Homo sapiens: one gene and its partner. The protein of the gene in region 2 purifies or fractionates together with the protein of the main gene of each other region. This does not show direct contact. Each region holds a gene or a part of one and is shown on either strand. Other genes may lie near its edges. The genes, in order: TNFRSF13B and RHBDF1.

Region 1 (3,807 bases), on a different chromosome or scaffold from region 2:
CAAGTGCGAGGTAGAATAAAGACGTTCTCAGACATGCAAGATCTTGGAAGCTACTGGAGGGCTTGCTCCACTGAATCTGGGGAGTGGCCAAAAAAACCACGGGTAGAACAGGACCCCTGTCAGCAGAGAGGAAGATGGACATTCTCAGCATGATGGTGAAGGACTTCCCCAGTGACAGCTGCTTGAAGGTCTAGAGGGTACTCTATCCCAGCTAAAATGGAAGAAGGGTAAATGTCACCAGTGAAAATACAGAAGTGATAAGTGAGGATGTCTGACCAACTGACAGGGTGGATTTGTCCCAGAGCTGGAGATGAATTACCTGCATGGAAAACAGAGGAGTTACCAACTCCAGGGAAACAAAAGACATTACTGAGAAAAGAAAGGTAGGCCAGGTGTGGTGGCTCATGCCTGTTCTCCAATCACTTTGGGAGACCAAGGCAGGTGGATCATTTGAGGTCAGGAGTTCGAGACCAGCCTGGCCAATATGGTGAAACCCTGTCTTCACTGAAAATACAAAAATTAGCTGGGTGTGGTGGTGCATGCCTGTAATCTCAGCTACTTGAGAAGCTGAGGCAGGAGAATCACTTGAAACCAGGAGACAGAGGTTGCAGCGAGCTAAGATTGTGCCACTGCACTCCAGCCTGGGCCACAGAGTGAGACTCGGTCTCCCCCCCCAAAAAAAAAGAAAGAAAAAAAAAAGAAAGGAAAAGAAAGGTAATCATAGGACATGTACAGCAGCTCAGCTGTGGGCAATATTTATATTGTCATAAATAAATGAGCCATCTGAGTCAACAAATAAGGTGGAGATGTGGAATTATTCCTTCTGTAAAAGAGTTTACTCACTGTGAGAGCCATTAGACCATTGTCAGTGAGCAAAGGCAAAAACAGGCTTTCTAGGAGAGAGCAAGGAGAAGGGGAAGAACAAAACTGCAGAGGAGTTGACATTCTGGAGCAGAGCCGGCAGCCAGCAGGTCTATCTTGACTCCAACTGAAAACGCACCCCTCCTTCACCGGGGGCCGGGGGAGGGGAAGCTGCATGCATGCAGATAGTGACGTCCAAGTTAAGTTCTCACCTTAGAAAGTGGGGAATCAATCCAGAGCGTCTAAAATGGACAAGTCAAGGACCAGCAGGGGGAGTGGACCAGATTCTGAGCCACTTTGGGGATGAGCCTGGGGAAAGCCACAGGGCAGCCCTGCTTGGAACCCTGGGCTGTGAGTCATGGGGCTGGTACTCCTTGCTGTGTGACCTTGGGCACGACTTCTGCTCTTGGACACCCAGCGTCCTCCCCTGTAAGATGAGGATGCTGTTGCTTACTCACAGAATCACTGTGAGCAGCATATGCATGGCAGGTGCCTAGTATGGTATTGAGCACGTTAGTAAAGACAACCCCCTGAGCTGCTGCCCTTATTAATATTGCCATTTCTTATGATAAGGAGTGCTGTGCTGGACAAGGCCTACACCTGGATCGAGACAACAAAAATTTTAGGGGCCAATTCCTGTTGGCGTGAGCCAACTCCCTCTTTTCCTCCTTGGTGGGGAGGTGTCTGTGCAGGAGTGAAGGAGCAGGGTTGGGGCGATGGGTGGGCTCCTCATTCTTGCCCTTTACAATTTCACCAAGAAAACCTGTAGATGTGACTGAAAGAGAAGGAACAGTAAAAGCTTGGCAGATAGGAGGAATTTCTTATCAAGTTTTGTTTTTGTTTTTGTTTTTGTTTTTTTGGTTTTTTCGAGACGGAGTCTGGCACTGCCACCCAGGCTGGAGTGCAGTGGCACCATCTCGGCTCACTGCAAGCTCCACCTCCTGGGTTCACGTCATTCTCCTGCCTCAGCCTCCAGAGTAGCTGGCACTACAGGTGCCCACCACCACGCCTGGCTAATTTTTTTGTATTTTTAGTAGAGACAGGGTTTCACCGTGTTAGCCAGGATGGTCTCGATCTCCTGACCTCCTGATCCACCCGCCTCGGCCTCCCAAAGTGCTGGGATTACAGGCGTGAGCCACAGAGCCCGGCCTTTCTCATCCAGTCTTTCAAGCAAACACTGACTGCAAACTTGGGCTGGGGGCTATGAGTTGAGCTCACCAGTGGGGTAGGGGCAGGAGAGGATTCCAGCGTGCAGAGATAGGGTGTGTGCCCCGATAAGGCTGCAGCCTGAGACCTGAGGGATGTGCATGGGAATGGATGGTGACCTTACAACCTGGCTTCTGCTAACTGGGAAGGAGAAGGAGGAAGAAATGGAGGAGGAAAAGAAGGATGAGGAAGAGGAGGCAGAAGAGGAGAAGAAGGGAAAAAGAAGAGAGATGAGGAAGACAGGGAAGAGAAGGAGAGAAGGAAGGAGGAGGAGGAAAAGATGGCTTTTGGTTTCTGTGAGCTGTATATGCTTTTTCCCCGGGCTATTTTGAAATACTGAAAATGGCTCTAAGACCCCCCTGCCTGCTCCCACCTCCACTCAGAATGAACCTTCAGAGATGTTCAAGGTTGAGAGTCCACCATCTCCATGCCTTTTTTTTTTTTTTTTTTTTTTGAGATGGAGTTTCACTCTTGTTCCCCAGGCTGGAGTGCAGTGGTGAGATCTCGGCTCACTGCAACCTCTGCCTTCCGAGTTCAAGCAATTCTTCTGCCTCAGCCTCCCAAGTAGCTGGGATTACAGGTGTGTGCCCCTACACCCGGCTAATTTTTGTATTTTTAGTAGATGAGGTTTCTCCATGTTGGTCAGGCTGATCTCGAACCCCTGACCTCAGGTGATCTGCCTGCCTCAGCCTCCCAAAGTGCTGGGATTACAGGCGTGAGCCACCACGCCCGGCCTCCCATGCTGGTTCTAAAGGAAGAAGAACTTAGTTAGGTCCTGGGAAAACTGGTCAAGTCACCTTCTCAGTTTTCTGTTTGTGAAATGGGGACAGCCACTTCTACCCATCATAATTTTCACCTCCTGCCAGCTCATGTTGAAAACGGATTCGCCATGGTTCAGTGACCCAGAGTGTGCCGGAGTGAAGTGCCCGTGGTGGGGAAAGCACGGCTGAGTCATCTTGGGAAGGACTCTGGCTGTGCACAACCTCAGTTTTCCTGACCTGTAAAATGGACACTCTAGACTTTCTTTTGTAGATCTTCTCAAGGGTGTGTACATGACAAGCATGTAACTGGCCCAAGACATGGCTGCTGCTACTGGTATAATAACTACCAGTAGTGATATAAATAGTATGAAATATAATGGGTTAATAGTTATCATTTTATAATAATTTATAATAATGTAAAATAATTTTAATATTAGTGATAATTAACATTTTCTTTTGTAGAGACAGGGTCTTGCTCTGTCTCTACAAAATTACAGTGGTGCAATCATAGCTCACTGCAGCCTTGAACTCCTGGGTTCAAGTGATTCTTTCCCCTCAGCTTCCCAATTAGCTAAGACAACAGCTGTGAGCCCCTGTGCCCAGCCAATGATAATCATTAATAATGATAGTAGCATCAAATTAGTGCTCTGGGCTGGGGGAACTACCCCCAGAACCTGAACTCCCAGAACCCACTGCTGGGTGACATTTCTTGTTGGTAATGTGACATTTCAGGGTATAGCCATTCTGCCTCCCCGTACTGTCTCATTTGTCTCTGAATCCAGTGCCTTCCAAGATAGCAGGCACACAGCAGGTGCTGGATAAATGCTAATCAGTAGCTGGATATAGTTGTACTCAGTAAAGACTTGCGGAAGGAAAAGCAAGCCGCATTCTTGCACTGTGCTGATAGACAGCTGGGCAGGGATCATACTGAGTTTCAGCAGCAGCTCCCTCCCTGCCTGCATCTCCTCCATCCAGGGAG
Region 2 (3,907 bases):
GAGAGGCCCACATCCCCTGCACACGTCTGGCCAGAGGACAGATGGGCAGCCCAGTCACCAGTCAGAGCCCTCCAGAGGTGTCCCTGACTGACCCTACACACATGCACCCAGGTGCCCAGGCACCCTTGGGCTCAGCAACCCTGCAACCCCCTCCCAGGACCCACCAGAAGCAGGATAGGACTAGAGAGGCCACAGGAGGGAAACCAAGTCAGAGCAGAAATGGCTTCGGTCCTCAGCAGCCTGGCTCAGCTTCCTCAAACCAGATCCTGACTGATCACACTGGTCTGTCTAACCCCTGGGAGGGGTCCTCTGTATCCATCTTACAGATAAGGAAACTGAGGCTCAGAGAAGCCCATCACTGCCTAAGGTCCCAGGGCCTATAAGGGAGCTCAAAGCCTTGGGCCAGGTCTGCCCAGGAGCTGCAGTGGAAGGGACCCTGTCTGCAGACCCCCAGAAGACAAGGCAGACCACCTGGGTTCTTCAGCCTTGTGGCTGTGGACGGCTGTCAGACCCTTCTAAGACCCCTTGCCACCTGCTCCATCAGGGGCATCTCAGTTGAAGAAGGAAGGACTCACCCCCAAAATCGTCCAACTCAGAAAAAAAGGCAGAAGCCAAGGAATCCAATCACTGGGCAAAATGTGATCCTGGCACAGACACTGAGGTGGGGGAACTGGAGCCGGTGTGGCGGAGGCCCTCACAGCCAAGAGCAACTGGGGGTGCCCTGGGCAGGGACTGTAGCTGGGAAGATCCTAGGGGAGGGCCTGATGGTCCCTGAAAGGCAGGGGAGACCTGGACGACTCCCCCTAAACCAAGAGCGCACCCTAGAAAGTCAGCTCCCCAAGGTGGGGACCGGCCAGCTCATGAGGGGTGCTGGTTGAGGGGCCTGCTTGTGCAACGGAGGCCACCCAGCCAGTGAAAGCTACTTGGAAGGGCTGGGAAAGGGTCTGAGGCCCCTTCAATCTGGCACCACCAGACTCCCATGCACTCCATTTGCCCCTGCCCCATTCTCAGGAAAAGGGGCCCGGCTTGCCCAGAATGACCCCTGGTGGCAGGGGGCTCCGCCTCAGGGACCCCTTGAGCCCCAGCCAGCTGCTTGGTCCCCAGCTTCTGCCCACCCTTGGGGTCGGGGCTAGGAGGTTGGGGTTAGCTCCACAGGGGTGAGGAGAACCGAGCCTGGGACTGCCCAGGCATCTAGCTGGGTCAAACCTGAAAAGCCAGTTTCATCCTTGAATCTTCTCCCGGTCTCCAACAGGAAGTCCCGTTGGCGGGTGGGAGTTCCCAGGATAGGAGAAGGGCCTCCAGACCTAGGCCCCACCCACCGGGACAGACACACACATTCACCATCTCAAGCGGCACACACAGAAGAAACTCTGGTCAGGACCACCTCGGTCGGAAGCAGGCCCTGGGGGGCCAGGGAAGATCCCCTGCCCATTCCCCGCCCAGCCCCACAAACATGCCCCCAGCATGACAGACAACCAGGCCCTCTGCCAATGCCCTGAGCATCTGGGGTCTGGCTGTCACCCCAGCCGGGAGAAGGCCTGTCCCCGTTGGCCTCTGCGCACAGAGTGAGAGTCTGTCTTCGGGAGTCGCTCCCAGCCCACCCTGGAGCTTCGAAGTGTACAGATGGGGGAGTCAGTGTCGTGGGGCAGAAGGCGGAGTCAGTCCCCCACCCCCAGCTCCACGGCTCCTGCTATTCCCATCGGTGAGGGCAGCCGGGACAGGGACCATCCCGCCCTGGGCTGGAGTTTCAGCTCGGAGACACCACCCGCCGGTCGTGGCCGGGAAGGAAAATGCAGCGGGGGGAGTTCAGAGGAACCTGGGGCACCCCCGGACTCTAGACTCCCGCTCCTGGGACCCTCAGCTGTTGGGCGGGGGCTGGAGCCGAGCTGTCCCGCCCGGCCAGGCCGCTGGGGCTGCTAATCCGGCCACGGGCTATTTTTGCGGCGCGCCGGGCTAGGAATCCGGGGCTGGGCCGCCTCCGCGGGCGACTCGGGAAACTCCAGGAAGAAAAGCCCGGCCGCCCCGGGGGGGCCTCGCCGCGACCCCTCCCCGGCCCCGGCCCCGGCCCCGACACGGCCCCGGCCGCTCTGAGCAGCTCCGGCCCCGGGTGCTGAGGACTCGCCCCGCCCTCCGGACGCAGCCCCGGAACCCGCCCGCCCCCGGAGCCCTGCGCTCCCGGCCGCGCTCACTCACTGCCGCCGCCGGGGGCTCTGGGGGGTCCTGAGGGCGCCGGGGAGGAGGCTGCCGCCGCTGGCCGGGAGGGCCCGCGCCGAGTCCCCGCCCGCCCGCCGGTCCGGCCCGCCCGGGAATGCCCTGGAGCGAGGGGCGTGCGCCCGGGGGCGGGCCCGGCCGGAGCGGGGCGGTCGCGCTGACTCAGAGCTCAGGAATGCGCGCCGCCCGCCTGCCCGGCCCAAGTCACCTCCTCCCGGAAGGCCGCCGGGCTCCCTTCTCCCCAGGGTCCGCCTGCGGGGACACCTGGGGCTGGGGTCTCCAGCGCCTCGGCCCGACGGAGGACCTGGTGGGAGCGGACCGCAGTGTCAGCGCTGGGCGGCTCCGCCTCTCCCTGGCTCCAGATTGAGGCTTGAGCTGTCCTGCCCTGATTTGTGCTGAGAAGAGGGTGAGGAGGGAGAGCAGGCACGGGGTAAAGGGCGGAGGATGGGTGTGTATCCCTGGCTCCCCTAAACCCGACCTCCTCCAGAGGCCCACGCTGACAAGTCCTGTATCCCACACTCACCCAATCCCACTAAGCACTCACATTCCCTCACACACATTCATGTGCACCGATCACTCACAATCATACACACACGTCCCCACATCCTTCCACTTCATGCGTTCATTCGCCTGCACATGCACGTGCTCACATGCACCCACCTACTCATGTACATCTTTCATGGGTACATACACGTGCACACACACACGTGTACACACCGATGCACACACTCAGTTCAGGACCACAGTCATTACCCCTCCCCCTGCCCTGTGCCCCTACCCCCAGAAGCCCCGCTCCACCAGCAGGCACTCAGGCCAGGCTGCACCGGCCCCACCCGAAGCCACTCAGCAGAGGCAGCGCAGTGTCTGGTGTCCACTCTGGGCTCTTCTCACTGTCTCAGAGCTCAGCGGCCACCCCGGGGTGGGCTCATATCCCTGCACAATCTGGGCTGGACTCAAAATGGCACTCTGCTTTCCGCTGGGGCTGCTGGTGAGAGTTTCCCAGCATTTCTCTCCTGACACTGGGTGGGCTGACCCTCCCAGGGTGGGGGACAGGGGTGCCAACAGCAGAGTACGGGCAGGGCTGTCCAGGAGCTCTGAGTGGTGGGTGGCCAAGGCTTCCTCTGGATAGAGGGTGCAGGGATCCCTTCGTCCCATGGGTCCCTAAGGACCCCTCTACAGGGTGCCCCCCCATGCCTCGGACAAATGTGTCTTCAGGCCCTGTGCTGGTCACAAGGTGCTGCTGCTTCAGTGCCATCCTCTGGGTCTGGGTGGCACCAGCCCTCTCCAAACTGAGCTGTTGCACTTGAGGGCCCGACGCAGACAATGGCCTGCTCCTTGGCTAGACAGAAAAGGGGAGAATTTGAACTAAAGGTGCTGGTACACTTACCGGTAGATCCCAGAGCCTGGGCAAGATTCCCCTGCCCATATCCTTGTCCATGCCACGGGATAGGGCGGTGCCTGCACATAATGGGTGCTCTCTGAACACAAGCAATATCAACACAATTCTCATGTAGAAGGAGACAATGGAAGCTTTGGAGGGGGTGGAGGGTAACTCCACCAGGGGATGACTGCCAGTGCATCACGGACACCGGGTGAGAGGGAGCCTGCCCCAGTGCCAACACTCAGTGCTCCGATAGCCTGCACGTGCCACCCCTCCCATGCCAGGCTCACAGCCAGAGACAGGACAGTCTCCATG

What was found.
Region 1: the proteins of RHBDF1 (region 2) and TNFRSF13B purify together in Homo sapiens (co-immunoprecipitation; one large-scale study listed by IntAct). This does not show direct contact.

What each region holds. Positions count from the first base shown.
Region 1 is NC_000017.11:16,961,839-16,965,645, forward strand, and holds part of TNFRSF13B (tumor necrosis factor receptor superfamily member 13B), read right to left. Parts: intron 1-3,807. UniProt on the Homo sapiens protein: Receptor for TNFSF13/APRIL and TNFSF13B/TALL1/BAFF/BLYS that binds both ligands with similar high affinity. Mediates calcineurin-dependent activation of NF-AT, as well as activation of NF-kappa-B and AP-1.
Region 2 is NC_000016.10:70,320-74,226, forward strand, and holds the start of RHBDF1 (inactive rhomboid protein 1), read right to left. Parts: upstream 2,313-3,907; 5' UTR 2,194-2,312; intron 1,887-2,193; exon of another isoform or gene 1,345-1,886; coding exon of another isoform or gene 1,207-1,344; intron 1-1,206. UniProt on the Homo sapiens protein: Regulates ADAM17 protease, a sheddase of the epidermal growth factor (EGF) receptor ligands and TNF, thereby plays a role in sleep, cell survival, proliferation, migration and inflammation. Does not exhibit any protease activity on its own.